2 linked regions of the Homo sapiens genome follow. The protein of the gene in region 1 interacts with the protein of each later gene in a pairwise test. Each region holds a gene or a part of one and is shown on either strand. Other genes may lie near its edges.

Region 1 (3,500 bases):
TGGAAGCCTCTCTGTGGGATTTGGGTCCCAGCTCTGCGTAACTGTGGGCAAACCCTTTCCCTCCTGAGTCTGTTTCCCCATCTGTCATACAAGGGGTGGGATGAGTGGTACTTTAGGCCGACCTGGGTTCGCATCCTGACTGCAGTGCTTTCTAGCTGTGCAAGCTGGGGTAGTCAGCTAACAGCTCAGAGCCTCAGTTTCCCTATCATCAGGAAGATCTGATGAGACAACGTTGGCAGATGTTGAATGCTGGGCTGGCCCACTATAAGTACACAGTTGATGGAAGTTCAGTTCCTACTCCCCATGCAGGTATGGGGCGCCGGGGGCTCCCTGAAGGTCACCATTCTGCAGAGCAGTGACAGCCGGGCCTTTAGCACTGTACCCCTGACACCTGTCCCCCGCCCCAGTGACTCCGTCTCCTCCACCCCTGCGGCTACCAGCACTCCCTCTAAGCAGGCCCTCCAGTTCTTCTGCTACATCTGCAAGGCCAGCTGCTCCAGCCAGCAGGTACTGATACAGGAGATAAGGGTGGGGAGGGGTGGGGCCTGCGTGGAATGCCCAGCCTGCCCTCCCAAGAATGCCTCAGGCTGCAATGGGCCCTGCCCCAAGCAGCCATGCATTTGCTTGGGAAACATTTCCTGACCTGCCAAGAAGGCAGGTTTTGGTGGTTTTGTTTTTTGTTTTGAGACAGGGTCTTACTCTGCCTCCCAGGTTGGAGTGCAGTGGCATGATCTCAGCTCACTGCAGCCTCTACCTCTTGGGCTCAAGCAGGTTTTTAGAGTCAGTCAGACCTGGTTCATATCGGCTCTGAGTAGCTGGGAGACCTTGGAAAGCGAATTCCACCCTGTGCCTGTTTCCTCTTGCATCAGACAAAGGAAAGTTTAGGGTCGGGCACAGTGGCTCACGCCTGTAATCCCAGCACTTTGGGAGGCTGAGGTGGGTGGATCACAAGGTCAGGAGTTTGAGACCAGCCTGAACAACATGGTGAAACCCCGTCTCTACTAAAAATATGTGTTGGCATGCTTCTGTAATCCCAGCTACTCAGGAGGCTGAGGCAGAAGAATTGCTTGAACCCAGGAGGCAGAGGTTGCAGTGAGCCAAGATCATGCCACTGTGCTCCAGCCTGGGTAACAGAGCGAGACTCTCAAAACGAAACAAAAAAAAGAAACGTTTAGAATCCACCTCACTGGGTGGTTCTGGGGATTCAGCAATGTGACATTGGAGTCCTGAGCGCAGGCCTGGCCCAAAGTGAGTGTAGCAGTAATCATGATCGCATTGTACTTGTATTACTACTCTTGTGCTGTGAGCTGTGTTACTCTGTGCCTCACCTGGCACAGCCTTGGAGACCTGGATGCTAATCAGGCCGCTCCTTGTCTTTGAGGCACTCACACATTCTCTGGGAGGGGCAGAAGCTCGGGCTGGCATGTACCCTGTGTCTTAGTTTATCATGCCTGCTCTAGCCTACACAAGAGAGAAATGTGTGGTGAGAGAAATGGGCGCACAGTGATGAGGCTGGGGTCTGCCTCCCCAGGCCCCAGCCTTGCCCACTGTTCTGGGCTCACGCCCCAGGCCCATCCCTCTTTCCCTCCTGCTGCAGGAGTTCCAGGACCACATGTCGGAGCCTCAGCACCAGCAGCGGCTAGGGGAGATCCAGCACATGAGCCAAGCCTGCCTCCTGTCCCTGCTGCCCGTGCCCCGGGACGTCCTGGAGACAGAGGATGAGTGAGTGGGGGATCGTGGAAGCTCTGTGTTGGGGGGTAGGCAGTCTCATCGGCCAGGGCCTGAATCTACCATCTGCAGGGTTTACCTTTGGGTTAAGCACTGCACCCCCAGCCAGGCCTCCTCACACTGTTAACTGTGTGACCTTGAACCTCAGTTTTCCCTGCCTGTAACATGGCTTGGTGACGGATATAGTACAGGAATTCATGACATTCTCTTAAGGTTCCCTCTAGGCAGGAACAGTATGACCATCCCTGTGGGAGAGGACAGGTTGTGGCACAGACTCTTGCCCCCTGTGGCATGTGTGCTAACCCCGCTGTGGGGTGACAAGGCTGAGGATCAGGTTCTTTTGTGGTTGGAGGTTAGGGTTTCCCTGTGTCTCCCCCTTTCATTGTCATGGGAGCCTGTTTAATCAGAAACTTCAGCCCTCCTGGGGTCTGGAACTATACTGGGGTGGGAAGGCCTGGCAGGCAGCCAGAGGTGCTTTCAGGACTCTGTGGGCAGTCATAGAGGTGTGCAAGGGCTGGGATGTGTCATCTCAGCAGCAGGACCATGTTAGCTAGGGCCACAGCGGGGACACAGGCTCTGTCTCAGGAGACAGCTGCTTCTCATCTCTGGATCTCTTAGTTTTAAGAAGAATCCAGAAATCCAGGTTTGTATGTGAAATCTCCCAATTTCAAAATGTTAACAGCTAGTTCAGAATTGAAACAAAACAAACCCTACGGAGAGCAAATCAAACACTTTCATAGGCTGGACGGTCCCTTGAGTCAGTGGTCACGGGCTCTGTCCTAATTTTACAGAGGTCACAATTTGAAGCTTCCAGGTGGGGCTGAGGGGACAGGAAGGGCTCTTGGTTGGCCTCCGCTTGCCTGCCTTGTGTGACAGGGGGCTCTCGCTCTGCAAGGGCAGGCTGTGTCTCTGTTAGCTGTTTCTCCCTTTGAGAAGAGCGTCCTTGAGTGGTTTTCTACTTGGTTGAAATAATCATAAACACAGGAGAATGATGACTCACCAAGACGTTCTTTGCTATTAGTATCATGATGAAAAAATCTAACGGGAAATGATCTAAAATACTCGAAAGTAGGGGACTGGTTAGATGATGAAAAAGCCCGTCCAGCTCGTGGAACAATGAATAAATAGAATAACTGGAGAATTTATAATAATGTGGAAAGGTGATGCAATGTCAAAGTAAAACAGGATTCAAAATTGCATCTGCAGAATGAGCTTGTTTGTGTAAGAATAGATCTTGTGACACAGAAGAAAACTAAAAGGACATACGTAGCACAAGCTGTTAACAAACTTGAGGTGTCGGGGATTCATCAAACCCTCTCCCAATGTTATCTCTCCATGAAGTCTTCTCTTGAATCCTACTTGGCCCTGAGGCCATCAAGAACATTATGGTCAGGCGCAGTGGCTCAGGCCTGTAATCCTAGCACTCTGGGAAGCTGAGATGGGCGGATCACCTGAGGTCAGGAGTTCAAGACCAGCCTGGCCAACATGGTGAAACCCCCTCTGTACTAAAAATACAAAATTAGCTGGGCATGGTGGTGCATGCCTGTGATCCCAGCTACTCGGGAGGCTGAGGCAGGAGAATTGCTTGAACCTGGGGGCGGAGGTTGCAGTGAGCCGAGATCGCGCCACTGCACTTCAGCCTGGGTGACAGAGAGATTCTGTCTCAAAAACAACAACAAAAATTTAAAAAGTCCCTCCAGTCCCTACCTACGACCCCCTCACCTTGGTCCCCAACACAAAGACATCAATACTGTCTTCCTGCATCAGTGGGG
Region 2 (3,500 bases), on another chromosome or scaffold:
TAAAATCATGGGACAAGGAGTCTCTCTGTTGTTCTGTAATAGTTTTTAGTTTCTTGACAAAAGCAGTATTTTTCTTCAAACTTGAGTCGAGGCGGCTGAAGAAGTTTTCCTCTGGTCGGCTGTCCGGAGCATTTTGGTTTTTGCTACGAAGTTCCTTTCTTAAATGATGTCGTTCCCAAGCTTCCTGATGAAGCTGAATGGATTCTTCTTTTTCTCTATATAAAAACAAACAAATAAATAAAATACTCTCTACATTTTGAAGCATTATACACAAATCCCCTAAGAGTAAAAAGCCAATGAAAAAAATTATCTAAGTATAACAATCTACAAGATTCAAAAGGCCTTTCACTACTTTTAAAGACATTTTACTGGCCAGGCATGGTGGCTCATGCCTGTAATCCCAGCACTTTGGGAGGCCAAAGCAGACAGATCACCTGAGGTCAGGAGTTCAAGGCCAGCGTGGCCAATATGGTGAAACCCCACCTCTACTAAAAATACAAAAATTAGCTGGGCGTGATGGCGCTCACCTGTAGTCCCAGCTATTCAGGAGGCTGAGGCACAACACTTAAACCCAAGAGGCAGAGGTTGCAATGAGCCAAGAACGTGACACTGCACTCTAGTCTGGGCGACAGAGCAAGACTCCGTCTCAAAAAAAAAAAAACAAAAAAAAAACACATAAAGACATTTTACTAACGACTAACGATAACAAGTATTATCTTAATGAGAAGCCCAGTACTGGAGGTCGATAACAAATGTCATAGAGCAGAGGATACTGACACTAGATTAAAATTAAAAATCATTCTGCCAACTGGCAAGCTAACTAGGTAAGACATATAATGCTACTGTGAAAAATATAGTATGTTTGGGAAGGATGTAAAATGTGAAACAAATAAAAGCAATGGGCAAAGAGAAAAAAAAACAATTATACACAAAGAATTATTTAAAGAATTAGCACTACAAGACCAGATGTGGTGGCTCCCAGCACTTTGGGAGGCGGGTGGATCACCTAAGGTCAGGGGTTCGAGACCAGCTTGGCCAACATGGTGAAACCCCGTCTCTACTAAAAATACAAAAATCAGCCAGTCGTGGTGGTGGGCACCTGTAATCTCAGCTACTTGGGAGGCTGAGGCAGGAGAATTGCTTAAACCTGGGAGTCGGAGACTGATGCTGCAGTAAGCCAAGATCTCCCAACTGCACTCCAACCTGGGCAACAGAGCGAGACTCTGCCTCAAAAAATAATAATAATAATAATAATAATTAGCACTATAAAAGAATGCATTAAAAATGTTTTGAGGCCTGGGCAGTGGCTCACGCCTGTAATCCCAGCACTTTGGGAGGCCGAGGCAGGCAGATCACGAGGTCAGGAGATCGACACCATCCTGACTAACATGGTGAAACGCCATCTCTACTAAAAATAACAAAAAATTAGCAGGGCATGGTTGCACGCGCCTGTAGTCCCAGCTACTCAGGAGGCTGAGGCAGCAGAATTGCTTGAACCCGGGAGGCGCAGGTTGCCGTGAGCCAAGATCATGCCACTGCACTCCAACCTGTGTGACAGAGCAAGACTCTGTCTCAAAAAAAAAGGCCAGGCACGGTGGCTCATGCCTGTAATCCCAGCACTTTGGGAGGCCGAGGCGGGTGGATCACGAGGTTAGGAGATCGAGACCATCTTGGCTAACACAGTGAAACCCCGTCTCTACTAAAAATACAAAAAATTAGCCGGGCGCAGTGGCAGGCACCTGTAATCCCAGCTACTCAGGAGGCTGAGGCAGGAGAATGGCATGAACCCGGGAGGCGGAGCTTGCAGTGAGCCGATATAGTGCCACTGCAGTCCGGCCTGGGCGAAAGAGCAAGACTCCATCTCAAAAAAAAAAAAAAAAACAAAACAGTTTTGCAATGTTAGATATTGTTTTTCCATCCTCAGCACATTAGCCAAACCTTTAACAAAGTACCTTGCTATGTTTGGGCTCTTAAAAATTCAAGTGATTTAGAAAATTTGGAAAGGAACCAGAAGACAACTATCAAATAAGAAACTTAATAAAAACCTAGTAGACTCAGTTTATACTGAAAAGAATAACCAAAAACAAATATACCTATTTTTCCACTAAAAAGACAGAACAAGTTTAAATTGCAGAAGTAATAAAATAGGCACGAGTGAGGGGCAACAATCTGATTTTGAAGTTTATTGAAGTTTTTGAGATAACAAAACACATAACTTAAATCTCCACTTTGTGAAGCTGAGGTGGGAAGAGCCCAGGAGTTAAGACCAGACTGGGCAACATAGTAAGACCCAATCTCTACAAAAAAATTTTAAAAATTAGCTGGACATGGTGGCACATGCCTGTAGTCCCAGTTACTTGGGAGGCTGAGACGGGGGGATCGCTTGAGCCCAGGAGGTTGAAGCTGCAGTGAGTCATGATCACACCATAGCTCTCCAGCCTGGGTGACAGAGTGAGCCCTGTCTCAAAAAGTTATACGCATATCTATAAATCTCTAAAAAAGTACATTTTCATCTTTCTGAGATAATCACCCCTGAGTTATAAGATAATTATTTGATTTTTCCATTAAAAGCTACAATATATTAACAGAAAGGTGGCCTCTATCACTGAGAACATGGACAGTTGAGTATCTCTTTGAAGTCTCCCAGCAACACACAAATACAAAATGAGCAGTGAAAGTACATTTTAAGAAAGTATGTACAAGGCTGGGTGCCGTGGCTCACGCCTGTAATCCCAGCACTTTGGGAGGCCAAAACGGGTGGATCACCTGAGGTCAGGAGTTCGAGATCAGCCTGACCAACATGGAGAAACACTGTCTCTACTAAAAATACAAAAATTAGCCGGGCATGGTGGCACATGCCTGTAATCCCAGCTACTCGGGAGGCTGAGGCAGGAGAATGGCTTGAACCTGGGAGGTGGAGGTTACGGTGAGCCGAGATCGCGCCATTGCATTCCAGCCTGGGCAACAAGAGTGAAACAACTCTGTCTCAAAAAAAAAAAAAAGAAAGAAAAGAAAAGAAAGTATGTACATACATTAAATAACTCAATTTTCAGCTGCATTGAAAACACTTATATATCGAAGTTTTTATGGGTAAATGCTATGATGCTCTACAATACTCCAGGGGGAAAAAGTGGGTAATTATTGATGCTAGGTAGATGGGGGACTAGTTCACTATACTATTCTATTTTTGCATATATCTGAAATTTTCCCAGGAGCTCAGGAGTTCAAGACCAGCCTGGGCAACACAGCAAAACCCCGTCTCTACAAAAAATACAAAAATTAGCCAAGTATGGTGGTATGCATCTGTAGTCCCAGCTACTCAAGAGGCAGAGGCGGGAGGATCACTTGAGCCCAGAAGGCAGAGATCGCAGTGAGCCAAGACCAGGCCACTGCACTCCAGCCTGGGTGACAGAGCAAGACCCTGTCTCAAAAAAAAAAAAAAAAGACTCTCTTAAGAATCATGGTTCTGAATATTCCAAAACTAGGCACTACTATAGCTT

What was found. The genes of interacting proteins can lie anywhere in the genome.
Region 2: the proteins of CIZ1 (region 1) and UPF2 interact in a two-hybrid assay, tested with the Homo sapiens proteins (one large-scale study listed by BioGRID).

Annotation. Positions count from the first base shown.
Region 1 is NC_000009.12:128,174,573-128,178,072, reverse strand, and holds part of CIZ1 (cip1-interacting zinc finger protein), read left to right. Parts: intron 1-309; coding exon 310-507; intron 508-1,597; coding exon 1,598-1,722; intron 1,723-3,500. UniProt on the Homo sapiens protein: May regulate the subcellular localization of CIP/WAF1.
Region 2 is NC_000010.11:12,029,310-12,032,809, forward strand, and holds part of UPF2 (regulator of nonsense transcripts 2), read right to left. Parts: intron 216-3,500; coding exon 1-215. UniProt on the Homo sapiens protein: Involved in nonsense-mediated decay (NMD) of mRNAs containing premature stop codons by associating with the nuclear exon junction complex (EJC).